Linked DNA regions of Homo sapiens. The protein of the gene in region 2 interacts with the protein of the main gene of each other region in a biochemical or structural test. Each region holds a gene or a part of one and is shown on either strand. Other genes may lie near its edges.

The links.
Region 1: the proteins of VASP (region 2) and XIRP1 form a complex in vitro, tested with the Homo sapiens proteins (one study listed by BioGRID and IntAct).
Region 3: the proteins of VASP (region 2) and DNMBP form a complex in vitro, tested with the Homo sapiens proteins (one study listed by BioGRID).
Region 4: the proteins of VASP (region 2) and IQGAP1 form a complex in vitro, tested with the Homo sapiens proteins (one study listed by BioGRID).

The regions. Positions count from the first base shown.
Region 1 is NC_000003.12:39,189,592-39,196,659, reverse strand, and holds the start of XIRP1 (xin actin-binding repeat-containing protein 1), read left to right. Parts: upstream 1-4,064; 5' UTR 4,065-4,214; intron 4,215-7,068. UniProt on the Homo sapiens protein: Protects actin filaments from depolymerization. Required for correct cardiac intercalated disk ultrastructure via maintenance of cell-cell adhesion stability, and as a result maintains cardiac organ morphology, conductance and heart beat rhythm.
Region 2 is NC_000019.10:45,517,477-45,524,500, reverse strand, and holds part of VASP (vasodilator-stimulated phosphoprotein), read right to left. Parts: intron 6,839-7,024; coding exon 6,667-6,838; intron 6,573-6,666; coding exon 6,407-6,572; intron 3,552-6,406; exon of another isoform or gene 3,258-3,551; intron 3,180-3,257; coding exon 3,095-3,179; intron 2,334-3,094; coding exon 2,284-2,333; intron 2,162-2,283; coding exon 1,920-2,161; intron 1,784-1,919; coding exon 1,683-1,783; intron 858-1,682; coding exon 806-857; intron 661-805; coding exon 624-660; intron 405-623; coding exon 359-404; intron 225-358; exon of another isoform or gene 188-224; intron 1-187. UniProt on the Homo sapiens protein: Ena/VASP proteins are actin-associated proteins involved in a range of processes dependent on cytoskeleton remodeling and cell polarity such as axon guidance, lamellipodial and filopodial dynamics, platelet activation and cell migration.
Region 3 is NC_000010.11:99,950,941-99,957,964, reverse strand, and holds part of DNMBP (dynamin-binding protein), read left to right. Parts: exon of another isoform or gene 1-759; coding exon 760-2,751; intron 2,752-7,024. UniProt on the Homo sapiens protein: Plays a critical role as a guanine nucleotide exchange factor (GEF) for CDC42 in several intracellular processes associated with the actin and microtubule cytoskeleton.
Region 4 is NC_000015.10:90,475,239-90,482,262, forward strand, and holds part of IQGAP1 (ras GTPase-activating-like protein IQGAP1), read left to right. Parts: intron 1-1,424; coding exon 1,425-1,580; intron 1,581-1,828; coding exon 1,829-1,992; intron 1,993-2,426; coding exon 2,427-2,651; intron 2,652-6,721; coding exon 6,722-6,862; intron 6,863-6,958; coding exon 6,959-7,024. UniProt on the Homo sapiens protein: Plays a crucial role in regulating the dynamics and assembly of the actin cytoskeleton.

The DNA.
Region 1 (7,068 bases), on a different chromosome or scaffold from region 2:
CCCAAACCCAACTTTGATGGAGCCCTACTTGGAGGGAGGGGCTGGTAGGAGATGATGCCCTGGACCCTAAAAACCAGTAGGCTCCCAAAGAGAGGACTGCGATAGCTGGAAGGGAACCACCCTTCCCTCATACCCCCTCCCCGAGCACCTCTCTGCCTGTTGGCAAAGATCAGCTGTTCAACCTCAGGATATTTATTTATTTCCAGCCTCGTTCCCAAAATGATTTGAGAGAGCTTAAAGAAATAGATGCACAGTATCTCCACTGTTAAAAAAATGGAGCTCAGACCTGAAGCATCCCTGAGCAGGCAAAACAAGTTAGGTCTCGTAAGGGACCTTACCCTTGCTTGATTTGCAGACATGCAAAACTGGAGCTCTTCCTTTCTTCTTTCCTTCCTTCCTTCCTTCCTTTTTCTTTCTTTTTCCTTCCTTCCTTTCTTCCTTTTCCTTCCTTCCTTCCTTCTTTCCTTCCTTCTTTCTTTTTTCTTTTCTTTTCTTTTTTTTGAGACAGGATCTCACTTTGCCACCTAGCCTGGAATGCAGTGGCATAATCACGGCTCACTGCAGCCTCCACCTTTCTGGCTTAAGCGATTCTCCCACTTCAGCCTCCCAAGTAGCTGGGACAACAATTGCATGCCACCACACTCAGCTAATATTTTCTTTTATTTTTTGTAGAGATGAGGTCTCGCTATGTTGCCCAAGCTGGTCTCCAACTCCTGGGCTCAAGTGATCCTCCCACCTCAGCCTCCCAAAGTGCTCAGATTACAGGTGTGAGTCACCATGCCTGCCTTTGAGCTATTTCTTGTAAATGCCTATATTAAAGAAAAATAAAACTTAAGTGCAACTAATGAGAAGCAGCCAGCACAAATAATTATATAACCAGGGACTTTCCAATGGGATAGATCAAATAAGGCAACTGTATAACTGTAACCAATCAAATATTATATTTGCTTTACTTCTGTATCTGTCTTATAAAAACCTCCCGCTTGTGCTCCCTCAGTAGAGTTCCCAAGCCACTTCTGGTTTGGGACTGCCTGATTCAAAAATTGTTGTTTGCACAAATAAACTCTTAAAAAATTTATTGTGCCTCAGTTTACCTTCTTAATACCACTAAAGATACTCCAGTAAATAATGCCTAGTTTACTATCTTGACAGCCTCATAATTAATACCATGATGATGTGATATCATTAGATCATTACACATAGAGTGACTAGCTTGTCCTGGTTTTGTTAGAACTTTTCCAGTTTTAAAACTGAACATCCCTTGTCTTGCAAAACTCCTCAGAGACAGACAACAAAAAGTTGGTCACCCTCATTACACAGGATTTGGACCATAAAGTCTACTTGCTAGGTTAAAAATTTAGCTCTGAGTTTCCTAGCAGCCAAGTCAAAGAGAAACACCATATGTCATAAAAATTGTTTATTCTATTGACAATTCTCCTTCCAGAAAAATTTATTTTCTTATTTATTTTAACATCTATAACAGCACTATCCGTAGAACTTTCTGAAATAATGCAAACATTCTGCACTATTCAATATAATAGTTTCAGGCTGGGTGCGGTGGCTCATGCCTGTAATCCCAGCACTTTGGGAGGCGGAGGCAGGTGGATCACCTGAGGTCAGGAGTTTGAGACCAGCCTGGGCAACATGGTGAAACCCCATCTCTACTAAAAATACAAAAATTAGCTGGGCACGGTGGCACACACCTGTAATCCCAGCTACTCGGGTGGCTAAGGCAGTAGAATCGCTTGAACCCGGGAGGTGGAGGTTGCAGTGAGCCGAGATCGCGCCACTGCACTCCAGCCTGGGCGACAGAGCGAAACTCCGTCTCAAAAACAAACAAGCAAACAAAATCAATATAATAGTTGCTAGCCACTTGTCTCTATGGAGCACTTCAAATATGGCTAGTGTAGTGAAATAACTGAGTTTTTATTTTATTTCATTTTAATGTACTTAAATTTAAATAGCCTCATTTGGCTAGTGGCAACTCTATTGGACAGCACAGCTGTACTAGATACAAAGAAACCAAGTGCTCAGGAAGAGCCTCTTTCCTAATATTGAGGCCTGAGGAATTTCTCCCATGAGTTATCACAGGAGGTGAGTACAAAAGTGAGTTCCACCTAGGGGCTTTTCTCTTTTTATATTATATACAGTATAATAGCTGGCTCTTCTAAAGCATAGGCTATGTGCTAAGTACTCTCAGGCACTTTTTTTTTTTTTTGAGACAGAGTCTTGCTCTATCGCCCAGGCTGGAGTGCAGGGGTGCGATCCCAGCTCACTGCATCTTCTGCCTCCCAGATTCAATTTTCCTGCCTCAGCCTCCCAAGTAGTTGGGATTACAGGTGTGTGCCACCACACCCAGCTAATTTTTTATATTTTTAGTAGAGACAAGGTTTCACCATGTTGGTCAGGCTGGTCTCGAACTCCTGACCTCAAGTGATCCACCAGCCTCAGCCTGCCGAAATGTGCTGAGATTACAGGCGTGAGCCACCGTGCCTGGCTGGAGGCACTCTTTTCATATAATAATTCCTTCAATTCTCAAAACTATCCTAGAAAGTAAGAAATTTCAGTACCCACAGGGAGAAAGCTCCTCCCAGGAGAAATCCTGAGAAACCTAAGGCTGCCCTTTCCCTGAAACACTGGTACATCGGTCTCCCTGCCCTTCCTAGAGAGAGCCAGGAGCCTGGGGGACAGGCAGAGGGCTAGAAAAGAGCAGGGGAAGAGACAAGAGGGAGGGAGACCAGGAAGAGGGGGTTCCCAGATGTCCTTACCCCCATCCCAGCTGACGCTGCAGGACTGACATTGACTACATGGAAAAAGTGAGCAATGTCTGGCATCACCCCCTGGTACCAGAGGGCATTTGGGGAGTCAGAAGGAAGACCTCATGTGCCAGGCCACAGAATGCACCTGCATACCCACAGGCATGGAGCCTGGGCCAGGCCCACCTAGGACAAAACACCTCTTTCGAGTTTTTTGCAGATGGTCCCCTGACATCCTTCACCACACTGGTCTGACTGCCAGGATCTCTTGGGCCTCCTGGGCCCCTCACGCCCTGGTAAGCAAAGGAGGAGGCAGGTGTGACCCCCCCACCCCCGCCGCCACTCCATCTGTGACTGGGAAGCTGATGACTCCAGGGTCAGAAATAACCCCACGGTCAGCTCCCTGCATGCCGCCCTTCCCCTCCCCTCCATTCCCAGAAAGCCTGGGCCCTGAGTCAGAGGGAAGAGTCGAGAAGAAAGGACTCAGATAATCTGGAATGAAAACCATAGAGTCCTGCTGTGGAATTCATTCATTGGGAGGCCGAGGCAGGTGGATTACCTGAGGTCAGGAGTTCGAGACCAGCCTGGCCAACATGGTGAAACCCCATCTCTACTAAAAATACAAAAATTAACTGGGTGTAGTGGTGCAAAGGAGGAGCTGGGCCTGGCCAATCTCGGCCCAGTGAAGAGCTGGGCCTGGTCATTCAGATGTCTTCCCCCCAAATCCAGCTTCATCGGGGCTGTGTTGACCTGTGCTGTGGGGCACAGGGTGGAATGGATAAGAAAGAAGGAACTCTTTAGTGCAGAAGGGAATGGGGAAGAAAGAGAGCTGAGCATCACACTCAGAGGTATCCAGGCTCAGAACAGAGGAGGAGGTGCCCAGCCTGCCCTCAGGAGACCTCCAGTCTCCTGGCACGGTGGGTGGAGACACGTCAGGAAGAGTCAGAGGCAGGGCCAGAGTAGAATGATGGGGGCTCACAAGACGGGAGCAAGCTGTCCAAGGTGTCAGATGCCTCTTCTTAGTCACTCTCTCAAAATAGTCTGGGACACCCCCAACCTCACAACCCAGCTGAGTCACTGACCCCAATCCCCAGATCAGACTTTGGATGAATGAAGCTTCTCCCCCTCTGTTTCCCCTCCCCAGCCCAAAGGACATGTAACTGATTCCCCAGGATGGAAGAGTGACTTCCACAAGACCTAAAAATAACCGAACCACTTAATACTCGGAACATAGCCTCTCCCACCCGCCCCCACCACGGCCCACCCACTAGCCAGCAAGATAAAGGCAGCTGCTGGGGCTGGCAGGGGACAGAGACCTGGAGCCAGGGCAGCAAGAAGGTGTCTGTTGGAGCCAGCAGAACAGAACCAATTTGAACAAGAACCTCCAGAGGAACGACGAACCCTGAGACCACAGCTGCTACAGACCACAAACACCCCATCAGCCAAGAGAGACCCTTGGTGAGTAACCTACCTCTCCATCCTTCCACAGCAAGGCTGGCTTTCACAGCTGGGATCCCCTCTCCTTCTGAAATGGACGTATTAGGAATGGCTCTGAGTAGGGGAAGGAGATTGAGGGGCATGCATGGGAGGAGGTGAGTGGAAGTCTCAGACATAAAGAACCCACAAAGGAGGTAAAGACAGTGTGAGCCCCATGGGAGCTCTCAGAGTGGCTGCCACAGGCCTGAAGCTAGCAGAAAGGATAGGCTCCTGCCAGGCTGGCATGATCCAGAAAGGCCTGGAGTTGTGATTTTTAAAATACAGGTATGGAGTGCCTCAGGCTTCAGGGCTTCCTCCCAGGGAAGCTTCAGGCAGGCCCAGGATCTGGAGGAAGGAGGAACAGGAGAGAGGTGGGGGCAGGGGGCTGTAAGTAGGCCTGAGTGTGCATTGCTAGAACAAGCCCCATGCCTAGTTGTTGTGGATGACACTCTTGGCATATCTGGCCCAGGGATAGCTCCCAGGGGCTGGCCGGAGCCCAGCTCCCTACATATCATAGCCTAAAACCTGGGGTGGAATTCGGACTCTGCCCATGTCCATAGTCTTGCCCAGTGGGAAAGCCCCCAGGGCAGATTTGGGGGGCTCACGGGAGGGAGACCAGATCTGAATTTGCCCAGATGTAAAGACATATGGAGCCAGCTGGGCCAAGGAGGAGGTGACCCGAGGACAGCAGGGGGACCATCCTGAGAGGCTGGCCCAGCCCTAGGAGACCAAGCTCTAGGACAGTTCTTGGGGCTCACCCCACGTAAGTCTGGTCCCAGTTATGAATTCTGTCCTGACTCTACACTTGTCCCAGCAGTCTCAAGCCAGGCAAAGATGGTGGTGGGAAGGCCAGGAGTCAGGAGACATGCTTCAGGCTTTGCTACTGCCTTGCTGAGCCTCCTTGGACAGCTCCTTTCCCCTCTTTGGGCCTCTGTTTCCCTATTTGAACAATAAGGGGTTTAGATTGAGTGACCTCTGAGGGTCCTTAGGCCTGACATCCCTGGACTCCATGATAATAACTGTCTGTGGCCTTAGCAGAGATTCTGGAAATTCCTGGGGGCGGGGGTGGGGTGAAGCTGATGGTGTGCACACACCATCTGCTCAGGCCACCCTGGTGGTGACAGGATGGAGTAGAGGTGGAGACAGGCTCAGGTTTGCCTTGGGCAGGGGATCCTCATTGGAGCTCAGAAATGAAAGAAAACCACCCAGAGCTTTGATGAGACTCAGGCTGCAGGTTTCAGAGCTCACATTCCCCAAAGGTTCTGATGTCTTTGGTGGACATGCCAGGGTGGGCATGGGGTCAGCAGGTCTCAGTTTCCTCTCTCCTCCTTCTGAGGTAGCCATAGGGAGGAAGTCCTGCCCCACTTACTTCCAGTACCTCCCCCCAGTGCAGACTCCTTTGGCCAGGGAAGGTGTCCAGGTTCTAGCACCTGGCTGGCCTGCAGCCCAGGGGCCTGACACCAGCCCAGGAGGCAGGATAGGGGAGCCCAGGCTAATGAAGGAGATGAGGTGAGCCAAGGGTACTGAGGGTCCCCACTGGCTGGGCCTCAGCCTCCCTCTGAGCCCAGGGCTGCTGTTCTGAGGCCAGGACCTCAGCTATATTTAGCACCCTGTGTGGTGCAGAGCAGTGGGTCAGGGGCAGCAGGAGGGGGCACGTGCTTCCCATTCTTTCCCTACTGGCCTCTGGGGACTGTTAGTACACCTGTCACAAGAGAGATAAGACATACATGGACAGAGACCAGAGAAGGGCTTGAGGGGTGGTAGGTCATTGAGGGGCGGGGGTGTAGCCGGGGAGAGGCTGAGCTGGGGTGGCCATGAGGCCTGCAGGGGTAGGGCTTAGCCTGAAGCCCCCCTGAGTCCGAGCCCCTGAAGCTGTGCTTGCTTGCTTAGAGAGCGGTATCCAGGAGCAAGAGGCAGGGCTGTCTCTGCAGAAAGGACCCTGATCCCATGGTCCTCTCCCTGGTTGTTGTCACCCTCATATCCTCCCAGGGGTGCCTGCTGGGGAATAGACGGGTTCTATGGCCAATAAGAAAGCTTTACACCTGCTACCCTCTTATTTCTTGGGGCCATGCCCTAAATGGAGTCTAGGGACCCCAAGCCAGCACGGCCTTCCATTTATTCACCAAGATCTGACTCTGGGCCTAAGTTCCCTCATCTTTATTTATAAATGATTGTGCTAAAAGACCTTTGAGATCCCCCTAGCTCAGACATTCTCAGTCTTCGAGTATAATGCAGAAAACCCTGACCAGATATTCAGAATTTGGATCTGGCCTAAGCACGAGATATCTGATGAGCAGCTTCCCAGCCCTGATTCTCAACTGCTTCCGCTCTAGCATGGGCTGTTGGCCTCTGCTTGCCTCCTTGGGCCTGGGAAAGGTTGGAGTGCGTTGACAGCCAAGAGGTAAAAGTTAGGCAGCGTTCCAGGTCAACATGGCAAGTCTGCCCTCTGGTGTTCTGCAAAGGAATCTCGTCTCCATAGGAAATCAGTCACCAGTTTAGAGACCTGCCTCTCCAAGGCTGGGACTCCAAAAGTCAGGATTCCCCCAGGCCACTCCCCTGGCAGTCTTCCAGGGAAACACTGATTTTTAACAAAGGAAGGTGAGGATGGGGCATGTCCAGTTTGCCCACTGGAGGTTTATGCGTCCCTTATGGAGCTAAAGGAAAGTGTCTCATGTCCAGTGGTACCATGGTCACTCCCTAGCAACGCATGAGATGTAGGGAAAGCAGGAACCCACTATGATTAATGGGTCCATGTCCTAAGTTCAAGACCTGTTGCCCACGAACCATGCAGGCAGCGAAGTGAAGCCCAGGCCAGGCACATAGAGAGAGGGAAGGA
Region 2 (7,024 bases):
CCAGGGGTCACATTGAGCTCTGCCTTATAAATTGGGCAAGTCCAAGTATTTTTGGGGCCCCAGTTTTTTTTTTTTTTGGTTTTGGTTTGTTGTGTTTTGTTTTGAGACAGTCACATTCTATTTCTCAGGCTGGAGTGCAGGCATGATGATGGCTCGCTGAGGCCTCAACTTCCTGGGCTCAAGTAATCCTCCCACCTCAGCCTCCTGAGTAGCTGGGACCACAGGTAAGTGCTACCACGCCTGGCTAATTTTTGTAGAGATGGGGTGTCGCCATGTTGCCCAGGCTGGTCTTGACCTCCTGGGCTCAAGCGATCTGCCCGCCTTTACCTCCCCAAGGGCCCCAGGACCGATGGCCTACCTTGGCAAGGTTGTGCTGTTCTTCTCCCAGGGTCTCCGCACAGATTCTGGGGATAGGCAAGAAATCAGAAAGATCAGGGACAAAAGACTGCCCCCCAATCAATCTTACTCCCCCAACCTCATCAGCCCCTGATCAAAGCCCCATCTCAGGAGACTACAATCCCCAGCACCATTCGCCCTGACTCTCCTATAAGGGTGCTTAACATGTGAGAACAGAGTATTCTGGGATTTGTAGTTCCTGTGGCTGGACTGGGCACTCTACTCACCACTCTGGGCCGGGACTCTGGCCTCTGGCTCCTCCTGCTGGTAGGAAATAAAACTGCCATGAGCCAGCCCCTGCCACACCTCTGCCCATTTCCTCTTTCAGGTTCAAACCCCACACATCCCACTATCCCTACCCTCATGGTACGGCCTAAGAGATGTAGGGCAAGAAGAGTCCCTGACTTACATTGGCAGATTCATCCTTGGGGGTTTTCTCCCCAACTTGCGTGGCTTTCCTTCTGCAGGAGAGAAAAGCAAAAACACGTGCTTCCGTCACCCAACCCATCCCCTTCTGAGGGGAGTTCTAGAAATGTAGATCCTAGCGCATAGAATTCTGGAACTCCGAAAACCTAAGGAAACTCTAGTTTTAGAAATTCAAGAGATTGTGCTGGGCGCAGTGGCCTGTAATGCCAACACTTTGAGAGGCTGAAGCAGGTGGATCTCTTGAGGTCAAGAGTTCAAGACCAGCCTGGCCAACATGGTGAAATCCTGTGTCTACTAAAAATACAAAAATTAGCCGGGTGTGGTGACTCATGCCTGTAATCCCGGCTACTTAGGAGGCTGAGGCAGAAGAACTGCCTGAACCCAGGAGGCGGAGGTTGCAGTGGACCGAGATCATACCACTGCACTCCAGCCTGGGTGACAGAGCAAGACTCCATCTCAAAAAAAAAAAAAAAAAAAAAAAAAAAAAATTCAAGAGATTGTGGTTCTAGAATCAGGGTGGAGGAGGTTCTATGATTCTTATATTAGGGAACAGTAAGATTCCGAGGGTGGAGCGGTGCTGTGTTGGAACACTGAGATTGCAGGAACCTGAGTTCCCAGAATTCTGAGGCAGGATCTCCTACGGTTCTAGAATTCTGGGTTTTAGAACATCTACAGGCTACCTAGGTGGTTGCAAGCCTCAGGCATTTCATGACAAACCCCACCATTATATCCCAAACCTGGTTATCAAAGGGGGAACATTCACCAAAAGAAACAAACTAAACAGGAATTGGAGCCCTCCTCTGACTGGGCCCTACTGAACTGGAACTCCAGGTGACTTGGGGGTCCAGGCTCAGGCTCACCTCCGGGCCAGCATGGCGTTCATCTCTTCCATGAGTCCCCCACCTCCGCTTCGACCACTCTCAGCTTTGGGGGCTGTGGGCCCCCCTGAGGCCTCCTCCTGCTGGAGAAATTTAAAAGGGGCAGGAGCTTTAGGGGCAGGCCTTTTGGCCTTCCAGCCCAATGACACCGCCGGCAGCCCTGGCCTCATCCCCCATAAAAGCCCTGTTGCCCCCTGCCCACCTCTCCCGGCCCCTCACCTTGCTGACTTTCCTGAGTTTGGCTCCAGCAATAGCTGCGGCCAGGCCTGGGGCCCCAGCTCCCCCACCACCAGGGCCCTGTGCTGCCGGGAGAGGGGGTGCAGGGGGTGGTCCTCCCCCTGCTCCGTGCGCTGCAGCTGGGACCCCCGAAGGGGGCAAACCTGGGGGTGGGGGGGGACCTGGAGGAGGGGGAGGTCCTGGTGGTGGGGGTGGACCCCCAGCGGGGGGAGCAGGTGGGCCTCCTGAAACAAACACAGAAAAGGGGGCAGCTGAGAGAGAGAAGCCTCATTCTTCACTGTCCAGCTGGCTGGCCACTTCCTCCAGGGAGGCCCCCTCCCAACTCCCGAAGCTATCTGAGCATCACCTGCATTGGAGACCCGGCGCTCTATGTGCTCCGACGGGCCGGGCTGCTGCCTGTGGGGGGAGGCGAGAGAGCTGCCGTCAATCAGGGCCCTAAGGATGGCCAGCGAAGGGGCCAGCGACCTCCGTCCTCTCTCTCAGAGGTCTCCAGGGTGGCTGGCTCCTAATACTCACCCAAGCCTTCCTCCCCTAGGGAACCAAGAAGGGGGCTGGGTGAGAGTAGGGGGAATGGAGGGCAGGGCAGCGACAGGGAGAGATCAGGATGCGAGATCCCAGTCACTAAACTGTCAGGAACACCGAATTACAAAATGCCCAAGATTCTTTCTTTTCTTTTTTTTTTTTTGAGACTCTGTCACCCAGGCTGGAGTGCAGTGGCTCGATCTTGGCTCACTGCAACCTCTGCCTCCCGGGTTCAAGCGATTCTCCTGCCTCGGCCTGCCGAGCTGGGATTACAGGCACGGGCGCCACCATGACCGGCTAATTTTTGTTATCTTCAGTAGAGACGGGATTTCGCCATGTTGGCCAGGCTGGTCTCAAACTCCTGACCTCAGGCGATCTGCCCGCCTCGGCCTCCCAGAGTGCTGGGATTACAGGCGTGAGCCACCACGCCCAGCCACAAGATTCTTTCAACCACCATATTCTGATTTCCAGGAATCTGCAGGGACCAGGAGGTTCTGCAACTCTGAGTGTCAGAAGTTTCTTGAACATTCTGAAAACTGCAAGTTGGCTGGGTTCTGAACTCTAGGAGTCAAGGGTTCCAGAACATATGGAACTCTGGCAGCGGCTAAGGTTCCCCACCCAGGGCCCAGCCCCACCTTTTCTGCTGCTCCACCTCCTCCGGGGAGGGGCCGTTCGGGACCGACCAGGTGGGAAGTGCTGGGGGTGGAGGGGGCCCACCTCCTGAAAGGTGAGAGAGAAAGGGCCATGGATCAGTCCCAGAACTCTGCTCAGCTCTTGGCGCTTCCCTTGCTCTCCCAGGCCTCCCAGGAATCCTGCCCAGAGGCGCTCACTTCCTCCTTCCAGAGGCCCTGAGGCTCCAGGCCCAGGAGGACGCACATTGGGAGGTGAGGCAGCACCAACTTCCCTGGCCTGAGTTGCCCTAAGGTAGGTGCTGTTGTGATGTCCCAGTGACAGGAGAAGCTAAGGCCCGGGGAACAGTCACTTGCCCCAGATTTCTCCAGGGTGGAATGTGCAGGAACAAGACTTGAATTCAGGCTGATTCCAGCAGCCAGGCTCTTAACCACTGTTGGTTTGTTTCGAGACAGAGTCTCACTCTGTCACCCAGGCTGGAGTGCAGCAGTGCAATCACGGCTCACCACAGCCTCCACCTCCCGGGTTCAAGAGATTCTCCTGCCTCAGCCTCCTGAGTAGCTGGGATTACAGGCGCCTGCCACCATGCCTGGCTAATTTTTGTATTTTTAATAGAGATGGGATTTCACCATGTTGGCTAGGCTGGTCTCGAACTCCTGACCTCAAGTGATCCACTTGCCTCAGCCTCCCAAAGTGCTGAGATTACAGGCGTGAGCCACCGCACCTGGCCCCTGGCTAGCTCTTAACCACTGTTACAGCCACTTGGACCTTACCTAAGAACCTGGAAAGGTAAAGAGCTTCTTCCTCACCTACCTCCAGGCCTCTGGCCCTAGCACCTGAATTGAATTGGCTACGAATTAACAATGAATTAGCCCCAATTTACAGATGACTCAACTGAAGCCCACTGTATTTTTCTGTGTGCCCCAGAGGAGCAAGCCCCTTCCGCACTAGCACAGAAGTTGTCCCACGAAGCAAACACCCCTGCATTTGGTGACTTTCAGTTCTACAGCAGTGATTCCAGGCCAGATGCACGGCAGTCACCTAAAACCTCACTACTCAGTCACGTCCGCAGACCAGCAGCCTGGGTATCACCAGGGCACTTGTGAGAATGTGGAGTCTCAGTCCGCCCAGCCCACCTGCACCAGAGCCTGCACTTTAACCAGATCCCCAGGTGATTCATGTGCACGTTAAGGTTTAAGAAATAGCAACTGGGCTGGGCGCGTGACTCGCGCCTGTAATCTCAGCACTCTGGGAGGCCGAGGCGAGTGGATCACCTGAGGTCAGGAGTTCGAGACCAGCCTGGCCAACACTGCGAAACCCCGTCTCTACTAAAACTACAAAAATTAGACAGGCATGTTGGTGCACACCTATAGTTCCATCTACTCAGGAGGCTGAGGCAGAATTGCTTAAACTCAGGAGGCGGAGGTTGCAGTGAACTGAGATCACACCACTGCACTCCAGCCTGAGAGACAGAGTGAGACTCCATATTAAAAAAAAAAAAAAAAAAAAAAAAAAAAGGCCGGGCGCAGTGGCTCACGCCTGTAATCCCAGCACTTTCGGAGGCCGAGGCGGGCGGATCACGAGGTCAGGAGATCGAGACCATCCTGGCTAACACGGTGAAATCCCGTCTCTACTAAAAATACAAAAAATTAGCTGGATGTGGTGGCGGGTGCCTGTAGTCCCAGCTACTCGGGAGGCTGAGGCAGGAGAATGGCATTTACCCGGGAGGCAGAGCTTGCAGCGAGCGGAGATCGCGCCACTGCACTCCAACCTGGGGACAGAGCGAGACTCCGTCTCCAAAAAAAAAAAAAAAAAGCAACTGGGCTGGGTGTAGTGGCTCATGCCTGTAATCCCAGCACTTTAGGAGGCTGAAGTGGGAGGATCACTTGAGCCCAGGAGTTCAAGACCAGCCTGTAGACCATCTCCACAAAAAGTAAAAAAAAAAAAAAAATTTGAAATGATCCAGGTGGCCAGACATGGTGGCTCACACTTATAATCCCAGCACTTTGGGAGGCAGAGGCAGGTGGATCACTTGAGGCCAGGAGTTTGAAACCAGCCTGGCCAATATGGTGAAACCCCTTCTCTACTAAAATACAAGGGCCGGGCATGGTGTCTCATGCCTGTAATCCCAGCACTCTGGGAGGCCTAGGCGGGCGGATCACAAGGTCAGGAGATAGAGACCATCCTGGCTAACACGGTGAAACCTTGTCTCTACTAAAGATACAAAAAATTACCCGGGTGTGGTGGCTCACGCCTATAGTCCCAGCTACTCGGGAGGCTAGGGCAGGAGAATCGCTTGAACCCGGGAGGCGGAGGTTGCAGTGAGGCAATATCGTGCCACTGCACTCCAGCCTGGGCAACAGAGTGAGACTCTGTCTCAAAAAAATAAAAATAAAAACAAAATACAAAAAAATAGCTTGGGCATGGTGGCACATGCCTGTAATCCCAGCTACTCAGGAGGCTGAGGCACGAGAATCACGCGAACCCGGGAGGTGGAGGTTGCAGTGAGCTGAGGTTGCACCACTGCACTCCAGCCTGGGTGACAGAGCAAGACTCTGTCTCAAAAAACAAAACAAAAAAAGAGCCAAGTATGGTGGTGCACACCTGTATTCCCAGCTACTTAGGAGGCTGAGGCAAGAGGATCACTTGAGCCCAGGAGGTGAAGGCTGCAGAGAGCCATGATTGTGCCAGTGCACACCAGCCTGGGCAACAGAGCGAGATCCTGTTTCTGGGGCAGGACCTACCTATGTCTTGATCTGGGAGGTGGTTTCCCGGGAGTGTGCCTGTGTAAAGTTCATGGAGTACTGATCCCTGAGTAATCGTGCATTTTTTTTGTGTTTGTTTTCTTTCTGAGACGGAATCTTGCTCTGTCGCCAGGCTGAAGTGCAGTGGCCTGATCTCGGCTCACTGCAACCTCTATCTCCTGGGTTCAAACACTTCTCGTCCCTCAGCATCCCGAATAGCTGGGATTACAGGCGCGCACCACCACGCCCAGCTAATTTTTGAATTTTAATAGAGACGCAATTTCACCATGTTGGGCACGGTGAAACTCCTGACCTCAGGTAATCCGTGTGCCTCGGCCTCCCAAAGTGCTGAGATTACAGGCATGAGCCACGGCGCCGGGCCAATGGTGCATTTTACACATAGGTGCACACGGTCACACTGGAATGCACAAAATGCTAGTGATAATTTTCCATGATAACAATGAATTCGCTCTATTTTACCGACGAGTAAACCAAGTCCCAGCAGGGTAAAGCGGCAGCCCCAGGCCACACAGCCGCATTCACTGGTCCCCTTTGCCCGCCGCCATTTCTGACCTTCCAACGCCTCTAGGGCACTGGCCATGCCGGCGGCAAACTGGGCCGCATCCTCCTTGCTGCCGAAGTTGAGGCCCCAGACCTGGCGAGCGTCGCGCCACTGATGGAAGTTGGGGGTGGCCTGGTTATACTTGACACCCCGGACGATGGCACAGTTGATGACCACCTGGTGGGAGGGGAAAGGGGGGTGAGGGGCGGCGGGCGCAGGGGTGGGGCGGGTAGGGGTTCAGCCCACAGAGGGGGCCGGCGGGAAGCTGCACCTGCTGGTCGGGCTGCATCTTCCGGCCCACGACGCGAAAGGAATTGGCCGTGGGGTTGTGGTAGATCTGGACGCGGCTGAAGGCCTGGGGACCCGTGCCAGCAGGGAGCCATCGCTTGTTGCCATCATCATAAAGCATCACAGTGGCCCGGCTGGAACAGATGACCGTCTCGCTGCAGGCGGGAGGAAAAGGGAGAGGGGCCGGTCACCTTCTTATCTGGGTCTCTCCTGGGAGATTCCAAGGGACAAAGACAGTGTGTGGAAGGAAGAGAGTGACACAGAGGGAGGCAGGAGCCACGTGGACAGAAGGAGACGGGGGAGACAGATCAGGAGAGAAAATCAGATCAGGAGAGACAGGC
Region 3 (7,024 bases), on a different chromosome or scaffold from region 2:
ATGGTGTTTCACCATGTTGACCAGGCTGCTCTCGAACTCCTGACCTCAAGTGATCCGCCTGCCTTGGCCTCCCAAAGTGCTGGGATCACAGGCATGAGCCATCGCGCCCAGCCATTTTATTTTTATTTTTGAGACAAGTGTTGCTCTGTCACCCAGACTGGAGCGTAGTGGTGAAATCACAGCTTACTGCAGCCTTGACCTCCTGGGTTCAAGCTATCCTCCCACCTCAGCCTCCTGAATAGCTGGGACTACAGGCATGAGCCACAGTGCACAGCTAATTTTTAAATTTATTGTAGAGACAAGGTCTTGACATGTTGCCCAGGCTGGTTTTGAACTCCTGGTCTCAAGCGATCCTCCTGCCTTGGCCTCCCAAAGTGCTCGGATTTCTGGTGTAAGCCACAGCACCTAGCTGGCCAGCAGTTTTAATCACCATTGCTTTTTCACAGAGATTACAAAAGTCAGCAGAGTAAAATATGTAGATAAAGTCTTAGTGTTATTATGAGAATGGTTTTGACCTCACAGATTCTCTGCTAGGATCTTGGAGACCCACCTGTAGGGTTCCATGGAACACTCTGAAAACTACAGGTTTATAGAACTGCTCCAATTCAATAAATTGTCAAAATTGTTCATGCTCCTAAAGCTCTAGGTGTATTTCCTTGAATTTGGTAGCTGTTTAAAATGAGAGGTTGCACTATTAGTCGTGATAATGTTCTGCTGGGTGATGACTGAGGTCACCATCTCTGCTCCTCTTTTCTTTAGGTGACCTGGTGATTCTCGATGGCATTCCCACTGCAGGCTGGCTGCAGGGCCGAAGCTGCTGGGGCGCACGGGGCTTCTTCCCATCTTCATGTGTCCGCGAGCTCTGCCTCTCCTCACAGAGCCGGCAGTGGCACTCCCAGAGCGCCCTGTTTCAGATTCCGGAATATTCCATGGGACAAGCCCGGGCCCTAATGGGGCTTTCTGCTCAGCTGGATGAAGAGCTGGACTTCAGGGAAGGGGATGTGATCACCATTATTGGAGTTCCTGAACCAGGCTGGTTTGAAGGGGAGTTAGAGGGCCGAAGAGGCATTTTTCCAGAAGGTTTTGTAGAGCTGTTGGGGCCCCTGAGGACTGTGGATGAGTCAGTAAGTTCTGGAAATCAAGATGACTGCATTGTTAATGGTGAAGTAGATACCCCTGTAGGAGAAGAAGAGATAGGGCCGGATGAGGATGAGGAGGAGCCAGGGACCTATGGGGTCGCCCTGTACAGATTCCAAGCCCTGGAGCCAAATGAGCTGGATTTCGAGGTCGGGGATAAAATCCGAATTCTGGCGACCTTGGAAGATGGCTGGCTGGAAGGATCCCTGAAGGGCAGGACAGGCATCTTTCCTTACCGGTTTGTGAAATTATGTCCTGACACACGGGTGGAGGAAACCATGGCTCTGCCCCAGGAAGGCAGCCTTGCCAGGATCCCGGAAACTTCTTTGGATTGTTTGGAGAACACCTTAGGAGTAGAGGAACAAAGACATGAAACCAGTGACCATGAGGCCGAGGAGCCTGACTGCATTATTTCTGAAGCACCCACTTCTCCCCTCGGTCATCTGACTTCAGAGTATGACACAGACAGAAACTCTTATCAGGACGAGGACACCGCAGGAGGGCCCCCGAGAAGCCCAGGCGTGGAGTGGGAAATGCCTCTTGCCACAGACTCTCCCACATCTGACCCTACAGAAGTAGTCAATGGTATTTCCTCCCAACCTCAGGTCCCTTTTCATCCCAACTTGCAGAAAAGCCAGTATTATTCTACAGTGGGAGGGAGCCACCCGCACTCAGAACAGTACCCCGACCTTCTTCCCCTAGAAGCAAGGACTAGAGACTATGCCAGCCTACCTCCCAAAAGAATGTATTCCCAGCTAAAAACTCTTCAGAAGCCAGTGCTCCCTCTTTACAGGGGCTCTTCTGTTTCAGCTTCAAGGGTAGTCAAACCCAGACAATCAAGTCCTCAGCTCCACAACCTAGCAAGTTATACTAAAAAGCACCACACGTCCAGTGTTTACTCCATCTCAGAGAGATTGGAGATGAAGCCTGGTCCGCAAGCCCAAGGGCTTGTTATGGAAGCAGCAACACATTCACAGGGAGACGGCAGCACTGACCTGGACTCGAAGCTGACACAACAGCTGATCGAGTTTGAGAAGAGCTTGGCAGGGCCCGGCACAGAGCCAGATAAAATTTTACGCCACTTTTCAATCATGGACTTTAACTCTGAGAAGGATATTGTCCGAGGTTCCTCAAAGTTAATCACCGAGCAGGAGCTGCCGGAAAGGAGAAAGGCCCTAAGGCCACCGCCACCTCGTCCCTGTACTCCGGTATCCACTTCTCCCCATTTGCTGGTTGACCAGAACCTAAAACCTGCACCACCCTTGGTGGTGCGACCCTCTCGCCCAGCTCCCCTGCCTCCCTCAGCACAGCAGAGAACGAATGCGGTATCCCCCAAGCTCCTATCTCGACACCGTCCTACCTGTGAGACCTTAGAAAAGGAGGGCCCTGGTCATATGGGAAGGAGTCTGGACCAGACCTCCCCATGCCCCTTAGTGCTGGTGAGGATTGAGGAAATGGAGCGGGACTTGGATATGTACAGTAGAGCTCAAGAAGAGCTAAACCTCATGCTGGAGGAGAAGCAGGATGAATCATCAAGAGCAGAGACCCTCGAGGATCTCAAGTTCTGTGAAAGTAACATTGAAAGTTTGAATATGGAACTCCAGCAACTAAGAGGTAAGTGACGAGGAAATAATATGTAATTGTTTCTTGACACTCACAAGTCCCAGAAACAGCCTACCCAGGCTTTTTAGGGATATGTTACCATCCTCGATGGACAAAAAATGATTTACATTTTCATTACCTAATTTCTTTTCTTTTTTTTTTTTTCCTTTTTTTTGAGACAGTCTCGCTCTGTTGCCCAGGCTGGAGTGCAGTGGCATGAACTTGGCTCACTGCAGCCTCCACCTCCTGGGCTCAAGTGATTCTCCTGCCTCAGCCTCCCAAATGGCTGGGATTGCAGACATGCGCCATCACCACACCTGGCTAATTTTTGTATTTTTAGTAGAGACAGTGTTTTGCCATGTTGCCAGGCTGGTCTTGAACTCCTGGCCTTGGGTGATCCACCTGCCTCGGCCTCCCAAAGTGTTGGGATTACAGGCATGAGCCACCACGCCCGGCCTCTTTTTTTTTTTTTTTTTTTTTTGAGACAGAGTTTCGCTCTTGTTGCCCAGGCTGGAGTGCAATGGCGCGACCTTGGCTTACCACAACCTCTGCCTCCCAGGTTCAAGCGATTCTCCTGCCTCAGCCTCCTGAGTAGCTGGGATTACAGGCAAGCGCCACCATGCCTGGCTAATTTTGTATTTTTAGTAGAGATGGGAATTCTCCATGTTGGTCAGGCTGGTCTCGAACTCCTGACCTCAGGTGATCCGCCCACCTTGACCTCCCAAAGTGCTGGGATTACAGGCATGAGCCACCGCACCCAGCCTCACTACCTAATTTCTTATTTCATCACCCTAGATAGGCTGTCTTGAGCCTCTGACTCTGTTTTGAGCCTATGACTGCTGTAGCCTCCTGACTTCATTTGCTGCTCAGATAAAGAATCTCAAACCTTGCCGGGTGCGGTGGCTCACACCTGTGATCCCAGCACTTCGGAAGGCTGCGGTGGGTGGATTGCTTGAGCCCAGGAGTTTGAGACCAGCCTGGGCAACAGGGCCAAACCCTGCTTCTACAAAAAAATACAAAAAATAATTAGCCAGGAGTGGTGGTATATCCCAGTAGTCCCAGCTACTCGGGAGGCTGAGGTGGGAGGATTGCTTGAACCTGGGAGGCAGAGGTTGCTGTGAGCAATGATCATGCCACTGCTCTCCAGCTTGGGCAACAGAGTGAGACCCTGTCTCCAAAAAAAAAAAGAATCTCATACCTCGGAGACACATATACCTCTGGGACATTTATGTCTCTTATTCTGCTATGGCATCCATAGCAGTGGTGCAGATGGGAAGTCCCTAAGTAGAACTTTCTTTAATCAGGCTCCATTAAGCACTAAAGACTTCCAGGTTAAGAAAGACTCATGAGAAAACTCCATCTTGTATCTTTGCTGTCCAGAGAGTAGATTTCTTTTTTTTCTTTTTTTTTTTGAGACAGAGTCTTACTCTGTCACCCAGGCTGTAGTGGTGAGATCTTGGCTCACTGCAACCTGTGCCTCCCGGGTTCAAGTGATCTCATGCCTCAGCCTCCTGAATAGCTGAGATTACAGGTGCATGCCACCACGCCTGGCTAATTTTTCTATTTTTAGCAGAGATGGGGTTTTGTCACATTGCCCAGGCTGGTCTCAAACTCCTGACCTCGAGTGATCCACCCACCTTGGCCTCCCAAAGTGCTGGGATACCATGCCTGGCCAAGGGAGTAGATTTTAATAATAGTAATAGCTAACATTTATTACCATATTAGTAAGCATGTGTTAGAATTTGCCTACAGGAAGAATGTTCACAGCTACCCTAAAGGTACAATGATAATTCATATGGCTACTCTATAGATGAGGAAACTAAGACATAGATATTGAGTAGGCTCAAGCCTGTAATACCAGCACTTTGGGAGGCCGACGTAGGAGGATCACTAGAGCCCAGGAGTTCAAGAGCAGCCTGGGCAACATAGAGAGACCTGTCTCTTAAAAAAAAAAAAAGTTTTAAATTAAATTTGAAAAGAGATTAAGTGACTTGCCAAGGGAGTTGGGATTTAAGCTTATGTTTCTAACAACTATAGTTCACCGCTTCCTATACTGGCACACTGAAAATTCAAATTATTTCCCTTAATTTGGGAATGATAAGCCTCTGGAGACTTCATTCATATTCACCAGACTCACAGGAGAAAAAATTTATAAATAGGAAGAGTACAAGAGGTAGGCAACCAACAGCAATTGGTCTAGGGCCCAAGAACGTGAATACATGTCACTTTTGGCTTGTGTACCAGAGATTTGAACTTATGTGTCATCAGGAAAGTCAATAATAGAAAGCAACCCAGGGGGTCTAGGAATAGCAGGATACTAATAAGAGATAAAAGCAGAATGGTGATCCAGAGATCCTGGATCAAGATGGCAGACTGAGCACATATAGCTACCTCCCTCCCTTTCTACTTTAGGTCTATAAAAGTGAATGGAAATAATAGAATAAAAAAATTCCAATAAAAAAGAGTATTATTGGAAATCAAGTAATCTTCTGAAAGATGATATAGCAGAAAGAGAGGGAAACCTCTATTCAAAATATTCTTAGGAAAGGACTATTATGCATGTGGGCAGAGTTCTAAGGGAACTGCAGACTAAGAGATGGTGCGGTAGGAGGGGTCCTAGAGCACATTCAGTGTAATTGATTAGGGGATAGCTAGGGAGCCAGGCCGCTGGGTTGCTTGTACTGAACAGCAGGAGCATTTACCCTCAAGCTACAGCATGAAGTAGATGCTTAGACAAGTCCTCAAAAAGGTGTTCATTTAATATGAGTACTTGAGCTCTCAGGGGAATGCCAGATACCTTGATTTCAGAGTCCCTGAAAAAGAATTCTGAGGGAACCTTGGCTGAGTGTTACATTCCCAAAGCCCTAGCAAACTCCAGATTCTCCATCACTTTCTATACCTACAAGTTTCAAGATAAACCTGTAAACAATTCTTGCATTAGATATTGTATTAGTCCATTTTCACACTGCTGATGAAGATACCAGATACTGGGCAATTTACAAAATGAAGAGGTTTAATGGACTTACAATTCCACATGGTTGGGGAGGCCTCACAATCATGGTGGAAGGCAAGGAGGAGCAAGTCACGTCTTACATGGATGATAGCAGGCAAAGAGAGAGTTTGTGTAGGGAGACTCCCATTTTTCAAAACCATCAGATCTCATGAGACTTACTCACTCTCACGAGAGCAGCACAGGAAAGACCTGCCCCCATGATTCAATTATCTCCCACCGGCTCCCTCCCACAACACATAGGAATTCAAGATGAGTTTGGAGTGGGGACACAGCCAAACCATATCATTCTGCCTGGATCCTCCCAAATCTCATGTCGTCACATTTCAAAACTAATCATGCCTTCCCAACAGTCCCCCAAAGTCTTAACTCATTTCAGCATTAACTCAAAAGTCCACAGTTCGACGTCTCATCTGAGACAAGGCAAGTCCCTTCTGCCTATGAGCCTGTAAAATCAAAAGCAAGTTAGTTACTTCCTAGAAACAATGGGGATACAGGCATTGGGTAAATACAGCCATTCCAAATGGGAGAAATTGGCCAAAACAAAGGGGCTACAGGCCCCACGCAAGTCTGAAATCCAGTGGGGCAGTCAAATCTTAAAGCTCCAAAATGATCTCCTTTGACTCCATGTCTCACAACGAGGTCACACCGATGCAAGAGGTGGGTTCCCATGGTGTTGGGCGGCTCTGCCCCTGTGGCTCTCCAGGGTACAGCCTCCCTCCTGGCTGCTTTCACGGGCTGATGTTGAGTGTCTACAGCTTTTCCAGGCACACGGTGCAAGCTGTTGGTGGATCTACCATTCTGGGGTCTGGAAGATTTTGGCCCTCTTCTCACAGCTCCACTAGGTGGTGCCCCAGTAGGGACTCTGTGTAGAGGCTCTGACCCCACATTTTCCTTCTGCACTGCCCCAGCAGAGGTTCTCCATGAGAGCCCTGCACCTGCAGCAAACTTCTGCCTGGACATCCAGGCATTTCCATACATCCTCTGAAATCGAGGCAGAGGTTCCCAAACCTCAGTTCTTCTGTGCACCCGCAGGCTCAACACCACATGGAAGCTGCCAAGGCTTGGGGCTTGCACCCTCTGAAGCCATGGCCTGAGTTCTACATTGGCCCCTTTCAGCCATGGCTGGAGCAGCTGGGACACAGGGCACCAAGTCCCTAGGCTGCACACAGCATAGTGATCCTGGGCACAGCCCAGGAAATCACTCTTTCCTCCTAGGCCTTTGGGCCTGTGATGGGTGCAGTTGCCGTGAAGACCTCTGACATGCCCTGGAGA
Region 4 (7,024 bases), on a different chromosome or scaffold from region 2:
TCCACCCGCCTCAGCCTCCCAAAGTGCTGGGATTACAGGCGTGAGCCACGACACCCGGCTTTTTTGCATTTTTAGTAGAGACGGGGGTTTCACCATGTTGGCCAGGCTGGTCTGGAACTCCTGGCCTCAAGTGATTGATCCACTCACCTTGGCTTCCCAAAGTGCTGGGATTACAAACATGAGCCACCATGCCCGGCCATCATAAGCTTTTAAAAAAGTTATGTAAGACAGGTCAGGCATGATGGCTCACACCTATAATCCCAGCACTTTGGGAGGCCGAGAAGGGCGGATCACTTGAAGCCAGGAGTTTGAGACCAGCCAGGCCAACATGGTGAAACCCTGTCTCTACTAAAAATTAAAAAAAATTAGCTGGACATGGTAGTACATGCCTGTAATTTCAGCTACTCAGGAGGCTGAGGTGGAAGAATCGCTTGAACCTGGGAGGCAGAGGTTGCAGTGAGCCAAGATTGCATGACTGCACTCCGGACTGGGTGACAGAGTGAAACTCTATCTCCAAAAAAAAAAAAAAAAAAAAAATTATTTAAGACATAAAACAACTTAATTGACAAAATTTTGATAGAGAAAAGAAGATAAATGTCTTCCCCTAATTTCACCTACCCCAGTCATTTTGTATCTTACATTCTTACTTCATATTAAAGGATAAGACTCTTTCCCTATGATAAGTAGTCATAATTTTTTTTTAATTTTATTTTTTGAAACAGAGTTTCCCTCTGTACCCCAGGCTGGAGTGCAGTGGCATGATCATGACTCACTGCAACCTCGACCTCCTAGGCTCAAGTGATTCTCCCACTTCAGCCTCTCAAGTAGCTAGGACGACAGGTGCATGCCACCACGTCTGGCAAATTATATTTTTATAAGAGATAGGGTATCTTTGTATTGCCCAGGCTGGTCTCAAAACTCCTGGGCTCAGGTGATCCTCCTGCCTCAGCCTCCCAAAGTGCTGGGATTACAGGTGTGAGCCGCTGCACCCAGCCATAAATATTATTTTTAACAGTAGCATATTAGATTTTTAGAAGATATACTATGATTTACCTCTTTTTCCCCTAGTATTTGACATTTAGGTTGTTTTCCAAGCGTTTATTATAAATAACATTGCAATTAATGTTTCAATATATATGTAGCTTTTATTGTATTTAAGACTTATTTTTATAATAGACTGCTGGAAGTTGGTTTGCCAATTCAGTGGACATTCTTATGGCTCAGATTCTTTGTTGGAACATAGGAATGGATTTGACTGGTGTACTGAAAACAGGATAAAGTGTAGTGGTTTTTAAATATTCAGTGGGAATCTGCCAGTGCAGTACACCTTCATGTGAGTTTGCACATGCTGCAAAACCTTTCCTCAATGCCCAGAGGTTCATCTTTGAAAGCTTTCTGATCTATTTATTGGTTTTTGTTTATAGGATGTGGTTTCCCACAGTAAAAAACTTACCAAAAAAAATAAGGAACAGTTGTCTGATATGATGATGATAAATAAACAGAAGGGAGGTCTCAAGGCTTTGAGCAAGGAGAAGAGAGAGAAGTTGGAAGCTTACCAGCACCTGTTTTATTTATTGCAAGTAAGTGGCTCCTGGAATCAGTGTTATAAAAATTTAGTGAATTTATTTTTCCACAAGAAAGCCTTACCATCGATCTCTCTGGAAGTATTTTTGACTTCCACTGAGGGGTGAGTGAGGGGCACTGTAACATGTTAATTTATTAATCTTTTTTCTCATATGTATTGTAGTCCTTCAATTTTAAATAATTGAATATATCTTGCCAGCCTTTATATTACCTACAAATGACTTATCCCTTGGTTTTATTTCAGACCAATCCCACCTATCTGGCCAAGCTCATTTTTCAGATGCCCCAGAACAAGTCCACCAAGTTCATGGACTCTGTAATCTTCACACTCTACAACTACGCGTCCAACCAGCGAGAGGAGTACCTGCTCCTGCGGCTCTTTAAGACAGCACTCCAAGAGGAAATCAAGTATGAACAGATTTCCTCAGGGCACAGGCCCCTTCCCACTATCAGAGGGGCTCCCAGTTTGAGATTCATGCCTTCCTGATCTTTTCTTGATCTCAATTAATTTATGAAAAATACTTACTCTAAAGAAGCATCTAATTTTTAAATAACTGATATAAAATCTTGCTGCTTCTAGGGAAGGGATAAATTAACTTTAGGAACATTCTGTATTAAGGTATAATTTCAAAAAGTAATCTGAACAGAAAGAATTCACATTTTTATCTAGTAGCGGACCCAATCATGACCACGATTGAGCGTGCAGCTGCAGGAACATTCTGTGAGTGCTGGGGAATGTTTCGAGAGAAACTGTTTCAGGGAGATAGGATCTTTAAGCAGGAAGGATCTTTTAAGTTGATGGGTTTTGTGACAAGTTTAAATTTTTATCTGATGTTTTATAGGTCGAAGGTAGATCAGATTCAAGAGATTGTGACAGGAAATCCTACGGTTATTAAAATGGTTGTAAGTTTCAACCGTGGTGCCCGTGGCCAGAATGCCCTGAGACAGATCTTGGCCCCAGTCGTGAAGGAAATTATGGATGACAAATCTCTCAACATCAAAACTGACCCTGTGGATATTTACAAATCTTGGGTTAATCAGATGGAGTCTCAGACAGGAGAGGCAAGGTATGTTAACCATAATGACACTTTTCTTTCATGTTGTTATAGTCTTTCCCTCTTTTTTCCCCTCTCTTTATTTATAAACTAATATTAGTTCAAATAGTTTTTCTTTTCTTTTCTTTTTTTAGACAGAGTTTCACTCTTGTCGTCCAGGCTGGAGTACAGTGGCATAATCTCAGCTCACTGCAGCCTCCACCTCCCAGGTCTAAGCAATTCTCATGCCCCAGCCTCCCGAGTAGCTGGGATTACAGTTGCACGCTACCACACCTGTCTGATTTTTGTATTTTTAGTAAGACTGGGTTTCACCATGTTGGCCAGACTGGTCTCGAACTCCTGACCTCAGGCAATCCATCTGCCTCGGCCTCCCAAAGTGCTGTGATTACAGCTGTGAGCCACCACACCCAGCCTCAAATAGTTTTTCTTTAGAAAACTGTGCTTTCTAAGTTGTTGACCTAGTAATAAATTCACTTATTTAGCAAATATTTATTGAGTATTAACTATGTGCCAGGCATTGTGTTAGAGATGTGTACAGTAATGCAATAATGAGTGAAACAGACATGCTTCCTGCCCTCTCTTCATAGTTCATTGGGTGGAAGAGACACCAACCAGGTACATAAAAATAAAAGCATAATTAAACATTGAAGAAAGTTTTATGAAGTTTTATGTACGGTTCTTTAATGGAGACTTTATAAGAGGGAGCTAACATAAGGTGGTTAGGGAAAGCCTATCCCGGAAGATAAAATTTCATTTAGCTGAGGCCCTAAAGCTAAGATGAACCCAGCCTTACTAAGAGCTAGGTGCAGAGTGTTTATGTCTGAACACTCTAAGCTGGAGGGTGTAGGACTTAAATGGACCCTGGCATAACTAGGGATACAGTTGAATGAGAAGGTTCATATAGATTGGGTGAGATCACTGTGTTTCATTAAAGGAAAAAGAAAACGGTGTGGAGTGAGCTTCCCTGAAATATCGTGAGTTGGGCTAATTAAATTAACGTATTACAGGAGATAGCTGAGCTAGGGCCATAGCGTAACCACCAACATTCATTTATCTAAAGCAAAAGTGTGCCAATCAAATATTGGTAATGCTGGGAAAAGGGAGTTCAGAATGCCAAAACGTTTCTGGTTTTATTTGTCTTGGGTGAGGACCCAGAGGGGTGGGAGATGGAGGTGTGAGCAGCATGGTCTGTTGTGGTTTTTTCTTGTTGTGGAGTAGAGTTAGATCATGCATGAAGCTCTCTGGGCATAGGTGGAGTAGCAGCTGTCCACACCATTGCTATTCAAAGTGTGGTTTGCACACCAGTAATGGAAAATCATCTGTGCACACTGTTTAGTTTAACTGATACTTTTTTTTTCATAGCAAGATTTTCTTAATGAAGGAAGTAATGTATTGATTTACATTCTGACTCATTGTCTTTATCTTGTCTTTGATCAGTTTGTAGACTGGCACTGGTCCACACTTTGAATAACACTATTCTTCATTCTACTTTCCATGTACCCGGATGCCAGGCAAACAGGGAGTTTTACGCTGGGTGGAGAACGGAACATTCTGCTGACTCCTTGAAAGGGCTTATCTCACCAGCCATGGTAGCTCACGACTGTAATCCCAGCTCTTTGGGAGGCTGAGGTGGGAGGATTGCTTGAGCTCAGGAGTTTGAGACCAGCCTGGGTAACATAGGGATACCTTGTCCCTACTTAAAAAAAAAAAAAAAAAAAATTAGCTGGGTGTGGTTGTGCACACCTGTAGTTCCAGCTATTCCAGAGGCTGAGGCAGGAGGATAGGTTGAGCATGGGAGGTTGAGGCTGCAGTGTGCCTTGATGGCGCCACTGCACTCCATCCTGGTTGACAAAAAAAGAAAGAAGGGGCGTTTCCTTATTAGGAATCATTTGGCATCTGATTGGTTCTCAGTACCATGTAGGTCTGTTATCAGGACTCAGATCATTGCAAAAGTCTTTTTAATTTTTTTGCCTGCATACCTGAGGCCCACATCCAGGAATGTGGTCAGCCAAGTGCAATACTTGTCTGGGAAGTTTTGCCTGCAACCCAGGGCATTCCTTGCCGATAGCCCCATGTACACTGGCTCCGGGCTTCTCAGTTATTTCCTCTGATGGTCCATGAGTCAGTCATTTTCAGATCCAAAGCCCGCTGGACATTTCAGGATTGGTTTTCTTGTGGGTACCTATAAGAAACTGGTGTCTTATTTTGCCTTTCATAAAATGGAAATTGAGCCAGGCATGGTGGCATGCACCAGTAGTCCCAGTTGCTCAGGAGGCCAAGACAGGAAGATCGCTTGAGCCCAGGAGTTTGAGCACTGCCTGGGCAATGTAGACCCCATATCTTAAAAAAAAAAAAAAAAAAAAAGGAAATTGATTTGAACTCTTTTTAAGATACCAGTGACTGTGAGGGATGGTGGTGTGGTGGGGATCTGTCCTGCAGGTAAGCATCACAGGTCCCTTAGCTTTCTTCTTTTACTTCAGCCACCATACACGTAGCAAACTGGAATCTTGTCACCTCTTGGGAATGTTCTTTCCTAAAATCTCAAAGTTAATGTTCTGTTCTATCACCAACGTTTTTTAGCATATTGATTCCCTTGCTGGTTACTACTTTTAAAACTCATATAAATAATAAAATATACAATATTCTTTATTGTTAAGTTCCATGTATTTATTTATTTCTCATAGAATGTTTCTGTTGATTTTTGCAGAATTTTTGTGTTCATAGTCTACCAATTTTAATTTAGCCATGCTATGACAAATGAAGAGGGGTATCCCTATCTACTTGTATTTTTCTTTTTGTTGTTGTGGTTGAGACAGAGTCTCGTTCTGTTGGTCAGGCTGGAGTGCAATGGTGTAATCTCAGCTCACTGCAACCTCTGCCTCCCTGGTTCAAGCGATTCTGCTGCCTCAGCCTCCCGAATAGCTGGGATTACAGGCATGCGCCACACGCCTGGCTAATTTTTGTATTTATAGTAAAGATGGGGTTTCTCCATGTTGGCCAGGCTGGTCTCAAACTCCTGACCTCAGGTGATCCACCCGCCTCGGCCTCCCAAAGTGCTAGGATGACAGGCGTGAGCCACCACACCCGGCCTCTACTTGTATTTTCTAAGGCTGCCATAACAAATCACCTCAAATTGGGTGGCTTAAAACAACCGAAAGTCATGGTCTCACAATTGTGGAGGCCAGAAATTTGAAACCATTATCATGAAGTCGAGGTGCTGGAAGAGCCACGCTCCCTGCAGAGGCTCTAGTGGAAACTCTGTTTCTTGACTCTTAGAGCTTGTGGTGACTGTTGACATCCCTCAACTTGTGGCTGTGTGGTTCCAGCCTCTGCCTTTGTGGTCACATTGCCTTCTCTTCCCCTTCTGTGTGTACCAAAGCTCTCTCTGCCTCTTTTTTTTTTTTTTTTTTTTTTTTTTAAGACAAGGTCTTGCTCAAGCAGTCCTCCCACCTCAGCCTTCCTAGTAGCTGGGAATGCTAGCATGTGCTGCTGTGCCTGGCATAGCACTCCTATCCTTGAAGACCTCCTTCTGGTTTCTAACAAAGTCCAGATTTGTCAGTATCATATACGGGGTCTGTCATGGCCTGCTCCCTGTCTGCTTTTCCACTGTCATTTCTCCTGTCTCCCCTTCCTTCCTAGAAGACTCTTCCTCTCCTTTTTTCCTGAGTTCAAGCATCCCTTCGTTTTGGAAGCTTTCCTTGCTTTTTCCATTCTGAGTTGAAGCCCTTTCCCTATGGTCCTGTGGCACTTTTGGTGAACTGATTTACAGCACAATAGGTTTATAATCATCTGTTTGTGTGTCGCTCCCACCAGACTGTAAAAGACTGAAGAGAAGGTGTCATGTCTTGTATAACTTTTATTCCCAAGTGCCTGTTATTGTGCCTGGCACACAATTCAGGCACCTGATTCACAGTTAAAAACCTGCGTTCAGATTCTAGACTTATCACTTACCAGCCCCGTGAGGATGAGCTTAAGCTATCTAATATTTCTGGGTCTTATAGTTTATGAAAGATAAGACACTTGCTTCAGGCTGTTCCTGGCTGTTAGTCTAACATAGTTGGGTATAATTTCTGTCTTCCCAGCAAACTGCCCTATGATGTGACCCCTGAGCAGGCGCTAGCTCATGAAGAAGTGAAGACACGGCTAGACAGCTCCATCAGGAACATGCGGGCTGTGACAGACAAGTTTCTCTCAGCCATTGTCAGCTCTGTGGACAAAATCCCGTGAGTGCCATCAGTTGTCATGACCCCCAGTAGAACCCAGCACTAAGTGCCTTTCTGCTCCTTGGCCCTTCTCACTAAGTTTTGTCCATCCCGCAGTTATGGGATGCGCTTCATTGCCAAAGTGCTGAAGGACTCGTTGCATGAGAAGTTCCCTGATGCTGG